Linked DNA regions of Homo sapiens: region 1 is linked to region 2. Evidence: fine-mapped expression QTL. Tissue or cell type: monocytes after LPS. Region 2 holds a variant in brackets; the other region holds the start of a gene. All regions are shown on one strand. Distances are from middle to middle.

Region 1 (8,104 bases), 130 kb after region 2:
GCCAGCGCTCTACATTTGGACATTTTTTCCAGAACTGTTCATGGTCTTTTATTAATCAACTTCCTCCATGTTTTCTCTCCCAGGGACATGTGTTTGGAAAACTGGTTGGCCAGAGTTAGGGTTCTGTTCTGACTCTAACATCTGCAAGTGGCAACATAACCAGTCAACACTGTATTTTTATCTGTGACCCTTTCTCTGGACTCCCCAAGGACAGAGCTCCAAGAGTCGTTTCTCTCTGTTGCCTCATCTTCATAATACTCTGGAAATGAATAAATGAATAATCCTTGTAGTAAGCAGCCTCTCAAATGGCTCCCTATGATCCCCCAATGGTTTTGCACACTCTATGTATAATCCCTGCTACCCCTTGAGTGTGGGAAGATCTGGTGACTTGCTTCTAGTGAATAGTATATGGCAAAAGTGGTAGGATGTCACTTCCCAGATTAGGTTACAGAAAGACTGTGACTTCTATCTTGATCGTCATTTTTTCCTGCTCTCTCTCTCTCCCTCCTTCTTTCCCTCCCTCTCTCAGAGGGAGAGACTCTCTGAGCCTTTGCTGTGAGGGAAGCAAGGTGCCATATTACGAGTGGCCTTATGAGAGGTCCACATTGCAAGGAACTGATGTCTCTGGCCAACAGCTAGTGACAGCCTGAGGCCTGCCAACAGCCACATGAGTGAGCTTGGAAGTGGCTCCTCCAATTGAGCCTTGAGGCCATCACAGCCCTGATCAACACCCTGATTATACAATAGTCAACGTATAAAACTCTCAACTAGCCCAGTGTGGTGACGCTCACCTGTAGTCCCAGCTTTTCTGGAAGCTGAGGTAGAAGGATCACTTAAGACCAGGAGTTCGAGGCTGCAGTGAGCTATGATCACTCTACCTCACTCCAGCCTGAGTGGCAGGGTGAGATTCTGTCTCAAAAAACAAAAACAGAAACACAAAAACCCCTCTCAATCGACAAGGGAAGTGTTGGTCAGACTCAGTGACTGAATTTACCATATAAATCATCTCTACAAGATGCGGCCTGCACATCTAACATGATTATTGCATGGTCCTCCTCTTCTGCAACTTAGATATCTCTAACTTTCATAACCCTTGAAAGGGTTTTAGGGATAAGAATATCCCCATTTTTGGAATGATCCAACACCCCAACAAAAATGAACACAAGTCAATGACAACCTGACAACTGGAAATTCCAAGTTCTCCATGTTATTACGTCAAAATTGTCTAGTAAAAGAGAGGCCAGAAAGGAAAGCATGTGCTAAAATTTGCCCTTTCTAGTCTTGCATGAGTAATTCTTGCAGCAGGAGCTTCATTACAACCGCAGGACTGGGGCACACGAAGACGGCCATTTTCAAATCTGGCCTGACATCAGAATGTAATTCAACTAGATAAACCTGGGACTTGGCCAAAATAAGTAGCATTTGCAAAACTGGAGCCAATGAATAGCATCACTTTTCTGTGGGACCATATGACTACATGTGAAGAAATAAAGGCCTTTGTTATTTTAAAGGGCAGGGACAATTGGAAATTTTGCAGCAGATAGTCACAAAATTTTCCACCCTTGGCTCTCCCAAGAAGATACCAGTTAGTGGCTTTGGGAGTTGGGTGTGGAAGGGGTTGCTTAGGAAGCAAAATTAAAATGATCCTGGACAGAATATAAACAGATGTCACTACATTTGTCATAGAACCTAAAACATGATTAGACCCTTACATTGTGAACTTACTTTTTCTGATCTTCTATGACTTGGCTCCTTAAAATCATAGCATTCTATACCAGGCAAGGCTTGGAAAGCCAGAGCTCCCCCTCTCACAGCAAATTCTTATTTTGGAGAATAATTTTGGATTGATTTTTTAAAAATCTTTAAAAACAAAACAATCTGTTTTAAAAATTGGCTTTGCTTCTCTGCTTTTTGGACTTGTCTGCCTGGGACAGAGCAAGAGGACTCACATCTGTAACACTTTCCATCTGGGATGGGTTTTCTGCATCTTAGGCATAGACTGCTTTTCATTCGTCCCTTGTATTTAAGGGTTTTTTTTTTCTAAATTATTATCCCTATTGCCTAACATCGGAGCTGTCTGGGGTTATAATATGGAGAGTAGAAGCTCATCAGCTAAATTGGTTTTAGTTGCAGTTGAGACAGTATTTTATCCTGTCAGTTTTCATTTTATTTGATGACAGTGCTTGGTATTTCTTCCTCAATAAGCAAAGATGACTTAGATCAGTGGCCTGATGAATAAGCATGAAATTTTGATTTAGAAAAGGAGGATATCCTGAAGCTCATGGAGAGAAAAAAGGAATCTAACCCCCCACCACACATACTTTAAATGACAAAGCAAAGCAGCAGCATTGTCTTTAAGCAACATATTTCAACCGAAGATCAACACTCCCCGATGTTAGGTAATAGAAATAATAATTTAGAAAGAAAAGGGGGGCCCTTTTAAAAACACAAAGAAGGAATGAAACATTTTTAAAGCAGGTATCGTATTACCTTCAGCACATGTCCCAAAGAAAAGGAAAAAAAGGGTGGGGGGGTCCGGGAGGGAGGGCGAAACTGATGCTTGGGAGGAAGAAGGCGACTCCCGCTGAGGGCCGGATGGAGGATGTGATCAGTCTAACACTCTGCCTTGGCCCAAAGGCTTCCTTCCGCCCTTTCGACCTATTAACAGGAGTGGGGAAGGACAAAGAACCGTGAATCGGAAAGAACGATTCCCAGCAATCTTCAGTGATCGAAAATAAATAAAGAAAAACAGAGAAAGCCAAAGTCTCCCATGGAAGGGAACCCAATTAATTGTCTTCGATTTCAGAATGAGTTTTTTTCCTGCTGTAGAAGAAGCGCACGGGAGGCAGCAGAGACAGCAACTTCTGCCAAGGTTCAACCTGATCAGAAATCGCTCAGAGCTCCAGCACCCGGGACTGAGGCAGAAGGGCTCCGCCAGGAATAACGTTTTTTAAAGCACAGGATTGCTGTGTGTGTGTGTGTGTGTGTGTGTGTGTGAGAGAGAGAGAGAGAGAGACAGAGGAAAGAGGAGGAGGAGGAGAGATTGATTGATTGATTTTTTTCTTTTCCTTCTCAACATGTCACTTTCCTGCATGGGAATTCCTGATATTCCTGGCAGCCCGGAGAGAGGGGAGAGGCCCCCTGGTGACTTATGACCCCCGCAGGAGTAACCAGAGAGCGCGCGCGAGCGCCCAGCGCCTGGCTCAAGACGAAGATTTAACCGAGAACAAAAGAACGTTTGCCAATCAGAAAACGCTACCCGAGAACGAGGATAACCCCGCTTTGTGTTTTGAAAACTCTTTAATTAGCCTGGTTTCTAAGACGCATTAAAACATTCCTACGCAGATTCTAAATGGAGGATCAAATGGTTGCTTCTGCAACGAAGATGGGATCCCGAAAGGGCACACGCCGCAGAACCAAGGCACACGGGGCCACTGAGACGCCCGGCGCGTCGTACAGAGTGTTCCTGGGCGCTCGGTCTCAGGTTACTTCTAGAACCAGTCTCCCCAACGCCGTCTTCGTTTCCTTAAAACCTCGCTAGAGTCACCCCAGTTCCCCAGACTCCAGGCCGTGCGCGCGGGCGGGGTGGCCTGAGCCCGGGTTCCCCGCTCTCCCTGCTTCGGGCCCTTCCTCCGAGGGGTCCTTCCTCCCGCCGTCACTCGGCCCCCTCCGCCCGACTCGGGTTTCTCCTCGGAGGCGGCCCCTCCTCCTTTTTATAACTCGGGGGAGGGGAGAGGGGACTGTGGCCTCGCGTGGACTCTTTGGGTCCGGGGGGAAAGAGGCGATCCGCAAGGCGCACCCCCTTCTCGTCCCGTCCCAAACCCCACATTGAGGACCCGGCGACCCGAAAGCCCCGCCAGAGCCAGCCTTTGCAGTCCTAACGCGACTCCTGGTCACGTCTCTCCCCGAAGGGGCGCTGCGCGGTCCTCGCTCCCCTCAAACGCCGCTGGCGAAGGCGCCCCTGCTCAGGAATGCGCATCTGAGTGCACCAGGAAGAGGAACAAATCTTTGAAGCAAATTCCCTTTCTGCGCGTTTTCGTCCCTGAGCGAATTCAGGGTAAAAGTTTTTCCGAACTTTTCCCTCCCAGTCCCCCGCCCCTCCCCTCAGGAATCCGCCCAGAGCGCCGCGGACACCGCCTCCGCCACTCCCGCGCCCGCCCCTTCCGACTTCCGCCCAATCCGAAGGCGGCCACCGAAAAAACAAAGGCCGCCATTGGGCCGCCGGGGCCTGGGGCCGCCCCCGGAGTGGTTTGTGAATGGGGGGGGAGGGGAGGGGAGGGGAGGGGACGGGAGGGGACGGGAGGGGGCGGGCCGGCCCGGAACCCCGCGAGCCCGACGCTTCTTCTGGCGACCAGCGCGACTCCGAGGCGTTAGTCGGCGCTCACTCCCGGCGGGCGGCGGCGGCGGCGGCGGCGGCGGGCGCCAGGACTCGCTGCTGGGGCTGCGAGGGGCTGGAGGGGCCGGGGCCAGGCCGCGGGCACGAGCGCCTCGCGGTTTCGGACGCAGTGTGACTGGGTTTCCAAAAAGAACTCGCCGTGCTCCCGACTCCGGGGCCGAGATCGGACTCAGCAAGAGCCGGCCGTTTGGCTGAAACTTGGGGCCGAGCTTTTGGGGCTGAAGAAGGAGCGGGGTGTGGAGGAGGAGGCGAAGGAGGCGGCGACGAGCGGAGCCTCGAGGCCAGGAGGCGGGGCAGCACCGCGGAGGCGGCGGCCGGGGCGAGCGAGCGGCGGCGGCAGGGGTTCTCCTAGCGGGGACCGGACCAGGCGCGGGGGGCGTGCGCGCTGCGGTGCGCCGGGGGTCCAGAGTCTTGGGCAAACTTTGAAGGGTGCCGGAGCCGCTTGTTGCTCCTCGCGGCGGAGGGAGCCGCACCGTTACGTCCCCGCGGGGAGAGCGAGGCGGCCCTCCTCGGCGCCCCCAACCCAGGCTGACGAGTTTTGGGCCCCCGGCGGCCCTGCGAGTGCAGGGCGGCGGCGTCTGCGGCGCCTTCGCGGCGCGGGCACCCAGGCGGCAGCGCCCTTTGCTCCACGCCGCCCACGGCCCGGCCCCGGCGCCGTGAGGACTCTCATGCGTCGGGCGCGGCGGCGCCTCCCCGCATCCAAGCCTCTCCCAACCGCCTCGTCGCACTCCTCAGGCTGAGAGCACCGCTGCACTCGCGGCCGGCGATGCGGGACCCCGGCGCGGCCGCTCCGCTTTCGTCCCTGGGCCTCTGTGCCCTGGTGCTGGCGCTGCTGGGCGCACTGTCCGCGGGCGCCGGGGCGCAGCCGTACCACGGAGAGAAGGGCATCTCCGTGCCGGACCACGGCTTCTGCCAGCCCATCTCCATCCCGCTGTGCACGGACATCGCCTACAACCAGACCATCCTGCCCAACCTGCTGGGCCACACGAACCAAGAGGACGCGGGCCTCGAGGTGCACCAGTTCTACCCGCTGGTGAAGGTGCAGTGTTCTCCCGAACTCCGCTTTTTCTTATGCTCCATGTATGCGCCCGTGTGCACCGTGCTCGATCAGGCCATCCCGCCGTGTCGTTCTCTGTGCGAGCGCGCCCGCCAGGGCTGCGAGGCGCTCATGAACAAGTTCGGCTTCCAGTGGCCCGAGCGGCTGCGCTGCGAGAACTTCCCGGTGCACGGTGCGGGCGAGATCTGCGTGGGCCAGAACACGTCGGACGGCTCCGGGGGCCCAGGCGGCGGCCCCACTGCCTACCCTACCGCGCCCTACCTGCCGGACCTGCCCTTCACCGCGCTGCCCCCGGGGGCCTCAGATGGCAGGGGGCGTCCCGCCTTCCCCTTCTCATGCCCCCGTCAGCTCAAGGTGCCCCCGTACCTGGGCTACCGCTTCCTGGGTGAGCGCGATTGTGGCGCCCCGTGCGAACCGGGCCGTGCCAACGGCCTGATGTACTTTAAGGAGGAGGAGAGGCGCTTCGCCCGCCTCTGGGTGGGCGTGTGGTCCGTGCTGTGCTGCGCCTCGACGCTCTTTACCGTTCTCACCTACCTGGTGGACATGCGGCGCTTCAGCTACCCAGAGCGGCCCATCATCTTCCTGTCGGGCTGCTACTTCATGGTGGCCGTGGCGCACGTGGCCGGCTTCCTTCTAGAGGACCGCGCCGTGTGCGTGGAGCGCTTCTCGGACGATGGCTACCGCACGGTGGCGCAGGGCACCAAGAAGGAGGGCTGCACCATCCTCTTCATGGTGCTCTACTTCTTCGGCATGGCCAGCTCCATCTGGTGGGTCATTCTGTCTCTCACTTGGTTCCTGGCGGCCGGCATGAAGTGGGGCCACGAGGCCATCGAGGCCAACTCGCAGTACTTCCACCTGGCCGCGTGGGCCGTGCCCGCCGTCAAGACCATCACTATCCTGGCCATGGGCCAGGTAGACGGGGACCTGCTGAGCGGGGTGTGCTACGTTGGCCTCTCCAGTGTGGACGCGCTGCGGGGCTTCGTGCTGGCGCCTCTGTTCGTCTACCTCTTCATAGGCACGTCCTTCTTGCTGGCCGGCTTCGTGTCCCTCTTCCGTATCCGCACCATCATGAAACACGACGGCACCAAGACCGAGAAGCTGGAGAAGCTCATGGTGCGCATCGGCGTCTTCAGCGTGCTCTACACAGTGCCCGCCACCATCGTCCTGGCCTGCTACTTCTACGAGCAGGCCTTCCGCGAGCACTGGGAGCGCACCTGGCTCCTGCAGACGTGCAAGAGCTATGCCGTGCCCTGCCCGCCCGGCCACTTCCCGCCCATGAGCCCCGACTTCACCGTCTTCATGATCAAGTACCTGATGACCATGATCGTCGGCATCACCACTGGCTTCTGGATCTGGTCGGGCAAGACCCTGCAGTCGTGGCGCCGCTTCTACCACAGACTTAGCCACAGCAGCAAGGGGGAGACTGCGGTATGAGCCCCGGCCCCTCCCCACCTTTCCCACCCCAGCCCTCTTGCAAGAGGAGAGGCACGGTAGGGAAAAGAACTGCTGGGTGGGGGCCTGTTTCTGTAACTTTCTCCCCCTCTACTGAGAAGTGACCTGGAAGTGAGAAGTTCTTTGCAGATTTGGGGCGAGGGGTGATTTGGAAAAGAAGACCTGGGTGGAAAGCGGTTTGGATGAAAAGATTTCAGGCAAAGACTTGCAGGAAGATGATGATAACGGCGATGTGAATCGTCAAAGGTACGGGCCAGCTTGTGCCTAATAGAAGGTTGAGACCAGCAGAGACTGCTGTGAGTTTCTCCCGGCTCCGAGGCTGAACGGGGACTGTGAGCGATCCCCCTGCTGCAGGGCGAGTGGCCTGTCCAGACCCCTGTGAGGCCCCGGGAAAGGTACAGCCCTGTCTGCGGTGGCTGCTTTGTTGGAAAGAGGGAGGGCCTCCTGCGGTGTGCTTGTCAAGCAGTGGTCAAACCATAATCTCTTTTCACTGGGGCCAAACTGGAGCCCAGATGGGTTAATTTCCAGGGTCAGACATTACGGTCTCTCCTCCCCTGCCCCCTCCCGCCTGTTTTTCCTCCCGTACTGCTTTCAGGTCTTGTAAAATAAGCATTTGGAAGTCTTGGGAGGCCTGCCTGCTAGAATCCTAATGTGAGGATGCAAAAGAAATGATGATAACATTTTGAGATAAGGCCAAGGAGACGTGGAGTAGGTATTTTTGCTACTTTTTCATTTTCTGGGGAAGGCAGGAGGCAGAAAGACGGGTGTTTTATTTGGTCTAATACCCTGAAAAGAAGTGATGACTTGTTGCTTTTCAAAACAGGAATGCATTTTTCCCCTTGTCTTTGTTGTAAGAGACAAAAGAGGAAACAAAAGTGTCTCCCTGTGGAAAGGCATAACTGTGACGAAAGCAACTTTTATAGGCAAAGCAGCGCAAATCTGAGGTTTCCCGTTGGTTGTTAATTTGGTTGAGATAAACATTCCTTTTTAAGGAAAAGTGAAGAGCAGTGTGCTGTCACACACCGTTAAGCCAGAGGTTCTGACTTCGCTAAAGGAAATGTAAGAGGTTTTGTTGTCTGTTTTAAATAAATTTAATTCGGAACACATGATCCAACAGACTATGTTAAAATATTCAGGGAAATCTCTCCCTTCATTTACTTTTTCTTGCTATAAGCCTATATTTAGGTTTCTTTTCTATT
Region 2 (8,106 bases):
CCTGGATGGCTTGTTACATCATTCACAGTTGGGTACTTCCTTTGAGAGAGACGGTTATGAGCTCACTTCTAGACATCTTGAGTTTGAGGTACTGGTGTGCATAAGATGATTAGAACCGCCGGCCTGGGAACAGGACGTGGAGATGGCTGTGAGTGAGTGTCATCTACACACTGATGGTCCTTGAAGTCCCCAGGATGTGACTGCCCAAGAGAACATATCTGAAGAGAGGAAGCACAAGAATTGTACCTTGGGAAAGCTCAATATTAGCTTTATTTAAGCAGTATTTAGAGCTTGGAGATGGAAGAATCAACAAAGGAGACAAAGCATTAGTGGTTAGAAATTGGTGGAAAGGGGAGGTGTTGTGCGGAGAGGGGAGGGACTAGAACCATTCTGTGTGACAGAAGTTAACAAGAGCGTTCCAAGATTGAGTAGCCTGCAGAGAAAACCACCAGGAAGGTGTGAACAAAGAAAGGCCGTGGATTTGGGAGGCTACCTGTCCTTGGTAACCTACAAGGGAGCAGCTTCCATGGCATGGTGGTCATAGAAGAGCACGATGGATTAAAGAGACAGTGACAGGTAAGAAAGCAGAATGAGGGAATATCTTTCAGAAATTGTTGCATAAAAGGATAGGAAAGATGGAGGACTCACTAGAGCACGGAAGGACTGACAGGTTTCGTGTTTTGTTTGGCATAGGAGAGATTATACATTTTTATGAGCTGAAGAAAAAAGAGAGAAAGAAGTTGAAGAATCAGTAGATAATCCAAAAATACCAGGCATGATCCCTTCTCGAGTTTTTGCCTGGCTCGTGCCTCTGCCTAGAACCCCTCTTCCAAATATCCACACAGCCAACTCCCTTGCCTACTTCAAGCCTTTGTCCAAATGTCACCGGTTGGTGAAGCCTATCCTGGCCACCCTATTTAATGGGCCACTAATTTGGAAGCCTCCTGTACACCAATCCCCCTTAACCTGCCCTATTTTTCTAAAGCATCTTATCACTTGATGTCGTGCTCCATAATAGATTTACCAATTTATGATATTTATTGTTTCTCTCTCCCCCCAGCTGGAATGTAAGTTCCATGAAGATAAGAATATGTTTTATTTTATTTTATTTATACTTTTTTGAGATGTAGTTTTGCTCTTCTCACACAGGCTGGAGTGCAATGGTGTGATCTCAGCTCACTGCAACCTCCGCCTCCCAGGTTCAAGTAATTCTCCTGCCTCAGCCTCCTAAGTAGGTGGGATTACAGATGGATGCCACCATGCCCGGCTAATTTTTGTATTTTTAGTAGAGATGGGGTTTCATCATGTTGGCCAGGCTGGTCTTGAACTCCTGACCTCAGGTGATCCACCTGCCTTTGGGTGAGCCACCACCTCCGGCCTAGGAATCTGTTTTATCCACTAGCGTATCTCAAGCACCTTGAACACTGTCTTGCATGTAGCAGAGTCTCAGTAAATGTCTTTTGAATGAATGAACTCTACCATGTTTCAACTGCAACCCAGCACACTTTTTCTCCCTTGTCCTGTTCTGTTTTGGCTTTGTTTTTTCATATATGATGTACCAGTGTATTACATTTGTTATGTTTTCTATCTCCCACAGTAGAAATCAAGCCCCACAGGAAAAATGATTTTGATATGTTCTGTTACTGATATATCCCAAGCACCTAGAATTGTGCATGACACATAGTCAGTGCTTAGGAAACACTTGTGGAATAAATGAATCAGTGAAGATTCAGAGATTGAAGGAAAGGAGATTGAGAGTCTATGTTTGCCTGGGAGAGGGTAAGAGATGCATGTCCTCTGAGACTGGAGAAGAGGTAAAGTACACAGATAAAACATAATCAAACCATTGAGCAGGTGTACAGAATCAGGAGCCAGGTGGTACACAATCAGGCATTTGTTCAAATCTGTCTCTGCCACTTACTAACTGTGTGATTTGGGGGCAAGTTACCTCCCTTCTCTGCTTTCACTTCCTCCTTTGTAAGATAGGAATGATAATAGTATCTGACTCATAGAGTTGGTGGTGAGGATTAAACGAATTAATACATTTAAAATATCTTAAAGAAGCTGGGCACGGTGGCTCATGCCTGTAATCCCAGCACCTTGAGAAGCCAAAGTGGGAGGATCACTTGAGGCCAAGAGTTTGAGACTAGCCTGGACAACATAGTGAGACCTCATCTCTACAAGAAATTAAAAAATTAGCTGGGCATGGTGGCACACGCTTGTAATCCCAGCTGCTTGGCAGGCTAAGGTGGGAGGATCGCTTGAGCCCAGGAGTTCAGAGATTGCTGTGAGCTGTGGTGGTGCCACTGGACTCTAGCCTATGTGATAGAGCAAGACCCTGTCTCAAAAAAAAATAAATAAATTGGGCCGGGCGCTGTGGCTCACGCCTGTAAGCCAGCACTTTGGGAAGTCGAGGCAGGAGGATCTCCTGAGGTCGGGAGTTCGAGACCAGCCTGGCCAACATGGTGAAACTTGGTCTCTACTAAAAATACAAAAATTAGCCAGGTGTGGTGGCACACACCTGTAATCCCAGCTACTCGGGAGGCTAAGGCACAAAAATCGCTTGAACCCAGGAAGTGGAGGTTGCAGTGAGCCAACATCACACCATTGCACTCCAGCCTGGGTGACAGAGCAAGACTCCATCTCAAAAAATAATAAGTAATAAAATATTTTAAACAGTGCCTGGCATATAGTAAGCACTATAAAAATTAGGTGGTGGTGGTGATAGTAAATGAAAAAAAAGGAACAGGGGAATTAAATATGCTAATACCCATGGGGTTTGACCTGGAAGGGAAGGCAGGAGGACAATATGGAACCAACTTAGATTTAACAGTGAGTTTGGGTTTGGGGATGACGTTGGGAGGGAAAGTCGACAACACCTGATTCTGGTTCTGTTTGTGACTGTGGCTCCATTTGGTAAGCCTGGCTAGAGCTGCAGGAACCCTGGGTTTCACTAACCTCCTACTCTGAAGAACAGATTAAAAAATGAGGATCAGAATTTTAAAATATAGATATTTTTCTCTGCAGACCAATTCCAATTCCTGAAAACTTGTATGAATAAAATAATGGCACTGATTTTTTCCGCTTTGAGATCTTTTTGGTTTTTGTTTCAGTTTTGTAGGTATTTTGTAATTTTTTTATGTTTCAATGTTTAGAGAAAGATCTAGCGGATTCGAGGCAGGAAACACAAAAGGCCAGGCTAATCACACGAACAGCGCCCACTACAATGGCTGCAATGGGCCACGCATCTCTGGAAAAGACA[G/A]TTCCCCAAAAGAGTGCCTGGGGAAGGCAGATAAAAGACCGAAGTTGGGTCATGTGACAGGTGTCACTTGAGTAACGATACTGGGGCCAGAGATAAAAGCCCACTCCTTCAGGTCACATGACCCAGCTTCATTACGCTCCCAGCAGGGGGTTACAGAGTCTGGATGCCATTTTTACTTATTTATTTATTTGTGTTTTTTCCCCTTATTCTGTGATAATGAGAAAATGTTTAAACTCCCATCTCTGTGTTTAAACATTTCTTCCTGCTGACAGCAGCGGGATACCCCTTGATCAACTGTCAGATTGGAAAGTGCAATTTTTCTGGAAAGTAAACAGCATGTTAGCTGGTTGGAAATAATTTTCTGTTTATTGGTAGCTGTTACTCTAGGAGTGATGGAGCCCTGTGACAGCACTTGTCAAGTGAAGAATAAGAAACAAGTTTGGAAATACCTTTAAGACATAGCTCTGACAATAGGGCCTTACTAGTTTTTGATAGAAATGAACTCTAAAAAAGTTAAAATGGGCAAAAAAACTTTTCCAGTGTTACCAACTCTCGGAGATCTTTCCGGCAAAACTGACAGAGAATCAAAGGCAAATTCATGGAATGCTGGAAGTGGATGGGTCCTCAGCAGGCACAAAACCCAACCCCTGTGTTTTACCACTGGGGGAACCTTGGACTCTTCTCATTAATAAGAGGAAAGCAGCCGGGCGCGGTGGTGGCTCACGCCTGTAATCCCAGCACTTTGGGAGTCTGAGGCAGGCGGATCACGAGGTCAGGAGATTGAGACCATCCTGGCTAACACGGTGAAACCCTGTCTCTATTAAAAATACAAAAAAATTAGCCGGGCATGGTGGCAGGTGCCTGTAGTCCCAGCTACTCGGGAGGCTGAGGCAGGAGAATGGCATGAACCCTGGAGGCGGAGCTGGCAGTGAGCTGAGATCGCATCACTGCACTCCAACCTGGGCAACAGAACGAGACTCCCTCTCAAAAAAAAAATAATAAAATAAAATAAAAAATAAAAGTAAAATAAAATAAAAAGAAAGCATGACAACTATCAATATGACAAATAAAAGTTTTATTTTCTTTTATGTATGAAGATGAATGCAAAAAGCTGGTGGAAGCAGTTTAAACATTTTGACCTAAGTATACTTAACAAGGTTTAATGGCACATATAGATATATACAGTTGACCTTGAACAACACAGGGATTAGAGGTGCCAAGCCCCCCACCCCCTACCCCCACTCCCCACCCTGTGTGCAGTAGAAAATCCACATGTAACTTTTTTTTTTTTCTTTTGAGACAGGATCTAGCTCTGTCACACAGGCTGGAGTGCAGTGGCACAATCATAGCTCATTGCAGCCTTAACCTCCTGGGCTTAAGCCATCCTCCCACCTCAGCCTCCCAAACAGTTAGGACTACAAGCACATGCAACTACACCTGGCTAATTTTTTAAATTTTTTGCAGAGACAGAATCTTGCTGTGTTGTCCAGGCTGGTCTTGAATTCCTGGTCTCAAGTGAGCCTCCCGCCTCGGTCTCCCAAAGTGCTAGGATTTCAGGAGTCAGCCACCACACCCGGCCCACATGTAACTTTTGACTCTTCAAAAAAAACTTACCTAATAATCATCTACTGTTGACTAGAAGACTTACCAATAAGATAAACAACCAATTAACACACATTTTATGTATGTGTTTTATACTGTATTCTTACAATAAAGTAAGCTAGAGAAAAGAAAATGTTATTAAGAAAATCATAAGGAAGAGAAAATATATTTACTGTTCATTAAATGGAAGTGGATCATCATGAAGTTCTTCAACTTTCTGTCTTCATATTCAAAGGGCTGAGAAGGAAGAGGAAGGGTTGGTCTTGCTGTCTCAGGGTGGAAGGGGCAGAAGAAAATCCACTTATAAGTGGACCTATGTAGTTCAAACCCATGTTGTTCAAGGGTTAACTGTATATATATATATATATATATATATATATATATATATATATATATATATATATATATATATACAATCTTTTTTTTTCCAGTGGCTAAAAGAACACCATTAGTCTTTTGTTAATTAAACATGTCATCAGAAAAAAAAAGTGTTTTTCTTTTTCTTTTTTTTTGTTTTTTGTTTTTTTGAGATGGTCTCCTCTGTCACCCAGGCTGGAGTGCAGAGGCACAATAATGGCTTACTGCAGCCTCAACCTCCCTAGTAGCTGGGACTACAGGCTCAAGCCACCATACTCAGCTAATTTTTTTTTTTTAAATAGAGATGCGGTTTCACCACGTTGCCCAGGCTGGTCTCGAACTTCTGGGCTCAAGCAATCTGCCCGCCTCAGCCTCCCAAAGTAGTGGGATTACAGGCATGAGCCACCACACACAGTCAAAGGTTTCTAATTATAAGTAATATATATTCTCAAGCTATATAAAGGTCCATATCTATCTTCAATTAGGGTAAGTTTAAGGTCCTAATTTGTCCCGGAATTCGCCTCACTTTTTCCTGATGGTTAGAAAAGTAATTCCAGCTGCTTGACGAGGTGCTTTCACCTAGATGTTTCTAACAAATATGTCAAATTCTGCATGTCCAAACTTCTCCCTACATCAAAAACAAAGCAAAAAAGGTCTTCTCCATTCTCGTTTTGGTTAACAGCATCACCATCCTCCCAATTGCCTGATTCCCCTCTCCCTGCCTCCTAAATACCTTTCAGTACATTTTCTTCTATAGCCAGTGCCAGGCTATGTGGTTCTCAAAGTGAGGTCCCTGTACCAGCAACATCAGCATCCCCTGGGAAGTGGTTAGAAATGCAAATTCTCGGGGCTTACCTCAGACCTACTGAATCTGGAACTGAGTGGGGTGGAGCCTGGTAAATCTGCATTCACTAAAGTGAGAACACTGTCCTGGCTGTATTCTGCAGGTCTTGCCCTGTAGTCTCCTAACTGGCCTTCCAGCCACCAATTTTTTCTCTGGAGTATTCCCCATACCAGTAGTTCTCAACCTTGGCTGCACATTGGAATAATCTTGAAAATACTGATGCCTGGGTCCCTGTTTAATTGCTCTGGTCTGCAACATAGGCACAGGACTTTTTTAAGCTCCCCATATTATTCTAATGTGTAGCCAGGGCTGATAATCACTGCTCCACCCGGAAGCCAGTGTTCTCTTGCTAAAAAACAAATCAGATGATGTCACTATCCCCCCTAAAAAAATCTCTATCAGTCATAGGATAAATTCTGAACCAGCTCTTCAGCATGGCCCCAACTGAGTACTCCAGCTGGCTCCATCAGCCTCCAGGCTCACTCGCTTCCTCTACACTCAGCCACGTGGAATTTCTCAGTATTCCCTGAATGCAGTATTCTGTTCACATCCCTAGCTTTTTGCACTTTCTGTCCCCTCTGCTTAGAATGCCCTCTTCCATCCTCTCTGCCTGGTGAACTCTTATCCCTCAATGCTCAGCTGAAAGGTCCTCCAGCCCAGGGTGAGTTGCTCTCTTCTCTGGGATCCCAGAGCACTCTGTTGCTATGTACATCATAGTATTGGTCCCATTTCATTGCAATTATTAGTTGACACTTCTTTCTTCTTCTTCTTCTTCTTTTTTTTTTTTTTTTGAGATGGAGTTTCACTCTTGTTGCCCAGGCTGGAGTGCAATGGCATGATCTCAGCTCACTGCAACCTCTGCCTCCCGGGTTCAAGTGATTCCCCTGCCTCAGCCTCCCGAGTAGCTGAGATTACAGGCATGTGCCTCCATGCCAGGCTAATTTTGTATTTTTAGTAGAGACAGGGTTTCTCCATGTTGGTCAGGCTGGTCTTGAACTCCCAACCTCAGGTGATCCGCCCGCCCCGGCCTCCCAAAGTGCTGGGATTACAGGCATGAGCCACCACATCCAGCCTTCTTTATCCTTTTTAAAAACTGACAGCGTTAGGAGATTAGAAGAATGCTTAGCTTTTTAATTTTATCCCCAGTGTCTAGTGTAAGTTGGACATTGAGAAGATGTTCAATCAATGTTGGTTAAGCGAATGAATTGGAAACACCACCACTTGCTGCCTTCCACTGAGATCAAATCATGGTGCCATTTTGCTTTTCTTTCCAGAATCAGTAAAGATCATATATCTCATATCATACACATATGACTTAGTAATCACATACCACAAACACGTGATTAGGAGCCAACCAGATCAAGTCTGTCACTTGCTGACCTTGGTTTTCTAATCTTTAAAATAAGGTCAATAATGCCTATTTTGTAGAGTGAGTGTGAAGATTCATTGTATAACACCCAGCAGCATGCCTGACACAGACTAGGCACTAAATAAATTAAAATGTTTATTATAATAATAAGTAAATAAAACTCACTGAAAAGAAAGTTAAACTGAGCAGCACTTCTGTTTATACATCTGTTTCTCTCTTCAGTGTGAGCTGCTGAAAGGCAAAAGCTGTCTTATTTATCCGTGTGTTCCCTGGGGCGGGGAACACAGTAGGCATTCATTAATTAATTCGGTCGCTCATTCACCAAGCATTTATTAAGCTAATGAATGAAATGAATAATATTTGGGTTAGAATGATGGCTTGCTGTTTGGGGCACAGAGAGACTCACACATTTGTCTGTCTTACAAAACAGAGAATCACAAGTTTGGCCACTGGAAGGTGTCTCAGAAATCATTTTTAAAGGTTCTCATTTACAGGTGAGAAAAGGGAGATAACTAACCAGGAAAGCCATTTTAATTTCAATATTGAGGATAACATTTCTAGGTTGGGAGTGGATGCTGACCAAGTAGGAAAGCAAGTTCACATTTGTAAAAGTTCTTGGGTGGGTGATACTTAACTAGGACAGTGCTTGGTTTTTCATGGTGAGAAACTGGG

Alleles and levels. Positions count from the first base shown, and alleles are read on the strand shown. Sizes are in standard deviations (SD) of each study's normalised expression.
As copies of A replace G in region 2, the expression in monocytes after LPS of the gene that starts at base 4,370 in region 1 goes down (moderate effect, 0.55 SD a copy in Quach 2016).

The links. PIP is the estimated chance that this variant, and not a neighbour inherited with it, causes the effect.
Region 1: FZD7 starts here. The variant in region 2 is fine-mapped to the expression of FZD7 in monocytes after LPS (Quach 2016, PIP 0.95).

Annotation. Positions count from the first base shown.
Region 1 is chr2:202,029,486-202,037,589 of GRCh38, forward strand. It overlaps FZD7 (frizzled class receptor 7), which reads left to right and starts at 4,370. Exons shown (of 1, transcript NM_003507.2): 1 at 4,370-8,104. The coding sequence starts at 5,163. The coding sequence ends at 6,887. RefSeq lists silencers at 3,952-4,501, 4,612-4,691 and enhancers at 5,254-6,094, 5,292-5,411.
Region 2 is chr2:201,898,662-201,906,767 of GRCh38, forward strand. No RefSeq gene overlaps it. Among named protein-coding and RNA genes, the nearest start is that of CDK15, 96 kb to the left of the region's middle. RefSeq lists an enhancer at 3,079-3,802. The variant G/A (reference allele first, on the strand shown) is at 3,263.